Linked DNA regions of Homo sapiens: region 2 is linked to region 1. Evidence: fine-mapped expression QTL. A gene starts in region 1. The other region holds a variant in brackets. All regions are shown on one strand. Distances are from middle to middle.

The links.
Region 2: its variant is fine-mapped to the expression of CYP19A1 in whole blood (GTEx, PIP above 0.99). The same link has a PIP of 0.9 or more in damaged cartilage.

The regions. Positions count from the first base shown.
Region 1 is chr15:51,337,060-51,339,977 of GRCh38, reverse strand. It overlaps CYP19A1 (cytochrome P450 family 19 subfamily A member 1), which reads left to right and starts at 1,382. Exons shown (of 10, transcript NM_000103.4): 1 at 1,382-1,483. RefSeq lists cis regulatory regions at 1,076-1,105, 1,170-1,187, an enhancer at 1,139-1,218 and promoters at 1,139-1,457, 880-1,457.
Region 2 is chr15:51,222,472-51,225,389 of GRCh38, reverse strand. It overlaps CYP19A1 (cytochrome P450 family 19 subfamily A member 1), which reads left to right. Exons shown (of 10, transcript NM_000103.4): 5 at 2,865-2,918. All of the region lies in intron 1 of MIR4713HG (MIR4713 host gene), which reads right to left. Among named protein-coding and RNA genes, the nearest start is that of MIR4713, 18 kb to the left of the region's middle. The variant G/T (reference allele first, on the strand shown) is at 1,532.

The DNA of each region.
Region 1 (2,918 bases):
CCCTGAGGCCTCCCCAGATGCAGGTGCTGCCATGCTTCCTGTTCAGCCTGTGGAACCATGAGCCAATTAAACTTCTTTTCTTGTAAGTTACCCAGTCTCGGGCTTTTCTTTATAGCAAGGCAAGAATGGACTAATACACATACCAATTCTTGCAGGTAGGATTTTTTGGCACAGGAGAGAAAGCTGAGTAGTATCAGACTTCTTGCCCCCTACTCTCCAGGGTGAGCCAGGGTAGAGCCTCTGAGAATGCACAAGGAAACTGAAGTGACATCTCAATCAGAAATTCTGAGTCAAAGTTTAGATTCCTGAGTTTTAATAGGAACATTGACCAACTTCAGTATTCTTAGAAGAGCATACAGGATAAGAAGAAATTAGGAAAGCATGAAGGTCCAAGTGTTTCATAAAGTACCCCCACTGTGGGGATATGATGACTGGGAGGGGATGGCAGTGATGTAAAAAGCTTTGTCCATTTCCTCCCAACTCAAACGTTCTGTGACCTACTTGAAGAACTGTCATGTATCCTTATCTCTTTTCATCCAGGTATCAGGTTTAGGGCCAATGGGGAGGAGCCACTGAGAGGGAGGGTTGACACTCAGCATCATTCAGATCTTCATTTAATTCAGTAAACACTTAACTGAGCACTTCCTGTGCCTGGTATGATAATGGGCATTGGAGATACGGAAGTAAAAAAGACAGGCAGATTACCCTGTGAGCAGCTGGAACACCGTGGAGCCTTCTGGGCTTCTCTTTATCCTAACATTCATTGCAGTTACTGTTGACTGATCATCTCTCAGCAATACCCACCATTAACCATGGAATAGAAGCCTCCTGAGGCTAGGGGCCATGTCACCCCCAACACATAGCACAGTTCCTGATTTGGAATTCACTATTACCCGTTGAATAAATGAGTGAATGAACGAATGAATAAATGAAAAGCTGTATAGTGAAGGCACTTCTATGTAGAACAATGTGGTGTGTGGTGGGGGGTGTGATCTTATGATTACATGTATATAGATTTTTGTCCATGGTTCTTGTCCATAACTCCCATGACACTTGCTGAGGTCTTTTGCTATAATGTAGAGGTGCTTTAGGCCTCAGGAAACAGAATATTTCTCTGGCCTTCTTTGCCCTCCTTTCATCCACCCAAGGCGGGACTCTATAATCTGATTGTGGGTCATAAGACCCTCATTCCAGAGGAGGTCATGCCCCATACCCTGGAGGAAGGAATGCTGCACAAAGAGAGGAAGAAGAATCTGGACAGACAGACCTTGCTGAGATTAGATCATACCCTTTTTGTCCAATCACATTTTGTTCAATCACATGCTTCAGTCATGGACAACAAATGAAATCTCCATAAAAGGCCCAAAGGACAGGGTTCAGGGAGTTTCTGGAGGGCTGAACACGTGGAGGCAAACAGGAAGGTGAAGAAGAACTTATCCTATCAGGACGGAAGGTCCTGTGCTCGGGATCTTCCAGACGTCGCGTATGTATCTCTTAATCTGACTGAGCCCTCAACCTGTGGGATCAGACACTCTTTCCAGGTAGATAGTGTTGGAACTGAGTTGGAGGACACCCAGCTGGTGCCCGCTGCTTGGTGTGTGGGGGAAAATCCCCTACATTTGGTCGCAGAAGTCTTCTGTGTTGATGACTGTTGTCGTGGTGTGAGAGCAGAGGGAAAACACTGCTTGAGTGTTTTTCTGAAATAGGAGGGCCTAAGAACTATACTGTTCTATGCCACAGAACTGGCCCCCTACTTTCCTTGAAAGGCTGGCTATCCAATGGTGAGGAGAGGAAGTGGTAGCCTGAACCAGCCTCCCCATTTCCCCACCTCCCACCCCAGTTCAGAGCCCAGATCCAGTAGACAGAGCAGAGATGAGGCCTGCTTGGAGCCAGGCAGGCTCTATTAGACAACTTCAGGCCAAGAAGCTGCCCCTCTTGGGATGCAGGACTCAAAAGGCTTGTAGCATGGCCACCCCGTGGGCTGGGTTGGTGGAAAGCCTGGGATATTGCTCTGGGGCAAGAGGGGCAGAAGGAAGCGCAAATGAAAAGCCAGACTCCTTTCCTACCAGACTCCACTGTCAGATCCCTCTCCAACTCTTCCTGTGTGGGATGATGGCATTTTTCACAGAAGAAGGGGGACATGTTGATATGGCCTACAAGGTAGACATCTTCACTCATCTCTCACCCTAAAGTGGCTGTGCCCAAGCAGCTGCCATGCTCTGCCCTCTTTCCTCTTCTCCTCTATCTTCTCTCTCCAACCCTCTTTCCACCGCAGTGCCACACAGTGACCTATCTCCATCACTGGCCTATTTCAGTGTTGCCCACTTTAAGGCCTAACTCCGAGTACCCTTCCTCATCTAGCCTTGACTTCCTAGGCCAGTCCCAAGCACTGTGAGCTCTACAAGCTGCAGGGGCTCTGTGGTTATGCACCTGGGCTTTGGAATCAGACCTGACCTTGAAACTGTTTTTTAACTGCATGACTTTAGATATGCTACTCAAGTTCTTTAAAGAGACTGTAATTGTATCTATTTCATAGGGTTGTGAAGCTTTAATAAGAAAATACTTGTAAAGCACTTGTATAATAAATGTTCAACACGGGTTGGTATTGTTGGATATGGGCCATATGAACTGGCTGAGACTTACACTGTGTGTGCCTTGTGCTGTTAGTTGACACTTTAGTTCTTCTGTGCCTTGTGCTGTTAATCGACATCTTAGTTCTTCCACATCCTATTTCTTCAGTTGGGTTACAATATTCTTAAGGCAGGGACCTATCTTAACTGTCCTCTCACAGCAGGGACTTGTGCCAAGTAGGAATATTTGATTAATGGATTCATTAGCTAATCACACTTTGTAGATGCTTTTTGAGGAACAGAACTTTTGAATGCACGATAAACTTGGGTTCTCGTCTGAATACCATG
Region 2 (2,918 bases), 110 kb after region 1:
ACATTTGACTTTTTCATTTGGCTCAGGTGTATTAGGAATATGTGAACTAGTATTTAGTAGTAGTTAACTTTCACATACCAATATCCTCTACCCTGACATGCAAGAGCTAATTAAAAGAATCTCTAAGTTCATCCATTTGTTTAACACCCCACCGTTCTCATCTTTGAACTAGGTACCAAGATACAATGACAAACAAGATGTGGTTCCTGCCCTCCAGGAACTTATAATGGGGGAGAGAGGTTTGAATTAGGAAGGGGCAGCCCAGCACATCACCAAATACTACCCTAGGTGATGGTAATGCTGGCGGTGTGCCCAGAGTGATGCCAAGTACAGATGAACAGGCCATCTAAAGCACATTGAGGGGCAGGGGAGACTTTTCAGAGGAATGGATGCTTATAATGAGTTTTAAATGAAGGTAGAAGCTAATTAAGAAAACAAAAGACAAATATTCTAGGAGTAAAGAATAGGATAACCAAAGGCACAGACAAATAGATAGACATGATGCATCCAGGGCCCTGTCGGTAAGTCCTTGTGCCTGGTGCAGATACATTCAGGGACGTGGCCAAGGGGAGGGCAGGGCCAGATCACCAAAGACCTCTCAGTTAAGGCAAGGAATTGAGCTTATCTCAAAAACTATGGAGAATCACTAAAGATTTTAAGCAGAATAACATAAACATATTTGTATTTTATAAAAATCCCTCTGGTAGCAGAGAGAATGACTAATTGGAAGGAAGCAGGATTGTGAGCAGTGAGAACATTTAGGAGCTACTGCAGTGATGCAGGAAGGGTGGAGGGGAGGCTGTGGTTTCAAGAAATGTCAAAAGGGTAGACCCTACAGTAGTAGAGCCTATAGTACTTGGAAATTAAGCAAAACATCTTTGTGATTTTTTTTTAGACAGCCTTCTATAGGCAAGATCAGGGTTTCTACAAAAAGTGCTACATAACTGGACCCAAATTCATAATCTCAGGAAATAGGGGGATAATTGCTTATTGGAAAGTTCACTGTGGTGTCTGACATTTCTATAATCAATGAGGGTCCTAAGCATTTTTCAGTGAATCTCCTTTTGGAGTTAGACTCCCTGTTGGTTTTCCTGATATAGTGGAAAGTTTGGCACAAGTTTTAGTATCTAAATCAGTAACATTAATGAAAGTATTGACTTACTGGGTGAGTCTGTAGAGAAATAGTTAAGTGCAACTTAGGCAATGACCCATCTTGGGAGGTAGGGAAGGGTGGTGGCGAGGGGTGAAGAAATAGCATGTGTTTCCCAAAACTGCCGAGAAATGTGTCCATATTGATGGTATTTGCTGATTGTTGCCCAATTTTCTTTTCACTAGATAGAGTCAATACTTTTTAGCATATTTTAAAAATTAAATCATATCTACATCATACCACTGCCTATAAGCCATGTTATTACATTTTTGCCCATAAATTTGGCATGTGGCTTCAAGCTCTTTAAACACAGAGGCAAATCATGCATCGGCCTGGGAGAAAACCACAAGTGACATTCTAAGCCAACCCTTCCACACAAAG[G/T]GTTGAGTCATTTGTCCTGCTTGCTGAAGTGGCAGTCACCCAGAGAACAACATCCTGGCCTTTCATATCTGCCAAGTCCTTCCTATGGTCAGAAAGCCTGCTCCTTCCTCAACCTTCCTTCCAAGATGTATGGAAATCTCAAAAGTCTAGGACCAGTCCTCAGGCCTCCTTTCTTATTTGCAAAGTATACCTTTAGGCATGGGGATTCCGCAGCTTAACCCAGTGTGTGTGTGTGTGTGTGTGTGTGTGTGTGTGTGTGTGTGTGAGAGAGAGAGAGAGAGAGAGAGCAAGAGAGAGAGAGAGAGGATAGTCTTCTTCTGGAGTTACGTCTACAAAGTTTCCCAATATTTTTCATCTCATTTCAAAGACTCTGATGTTAACAGCAAACCTGAATAATAAAAGACTTAAAAAGAGATTACTCCTAAAAGATGCTTAAAGAAACGTAACACAAAGAGAGAAAGGGGCACTTTAAGGGTTAAACCCTCCTGTGTAGGCCACCTACCATCAGGACCCACCAGCCACTGCTCAGATATGAACAGGGCAAGAGTAAGATCAAAGCCAGTTTACTCTATTTTCATTCATTCATTCATTCATTCATTCCTCTATTGAAAAAATATGTATGAAGGCCCCCATGGACCATCAGCTTGAAGTGCAATGCTAATGAGTGGCTGTCACTGTCCTTAAAGAGCTCTCAGTTCAGTGAGGGAAGACTGGTAAGCAAGCAAGGAATTGCTTAGCTGTCATGCCATTGGCTGAGTAAAATAAACCTGGAAGTAGTTTGAAGAGAAATCAAAATTAAGAGAAGGGCACTTTGGGGGATTTTTACAACTAGCCTTTTACACTTAAACAGGAAGCACCTTAGATCAAATAGGATCCAATTTGACCAGTTTTCCAATAATATCCTGCCACCTGTTGAAACGCAAAATAAATATGACCCTAGGCAAATCCAAATCATCTTTGGAGGGAAATGTATGCAATAAATATGAAAAAATCACTGATTTGTGATTTATGACCACAAGTACTAAATGTTTCATTTGCAATCTCATAAATGGCTGGCTAGAGCATGAAAAAAAGTTTAATTTTTAATAGTTTGTTTAAAATAATATTTGTCCCTATCTCCTTCCGTTCATTCATTCTTAACCATAGGATAGTACATGCTTATGTAAAATTAGGAGACCACAGAAAAGCATACGAAAATATTATGAAAACTTCCACCCAATTATTAAATTAAAAATTGTGGACAATTAAGCTCCAACATAAAAAGCCAAAATGGCATGATTGTGTGTGTGCCCTGGAGTTCGTGATGGCTGATTCTCTGATGTGTACTCTGCAGCTCTGTCAGGCCCCGGCCTTGTTCGTATGGTCACAGTCTGTGCTGAATCCCTCA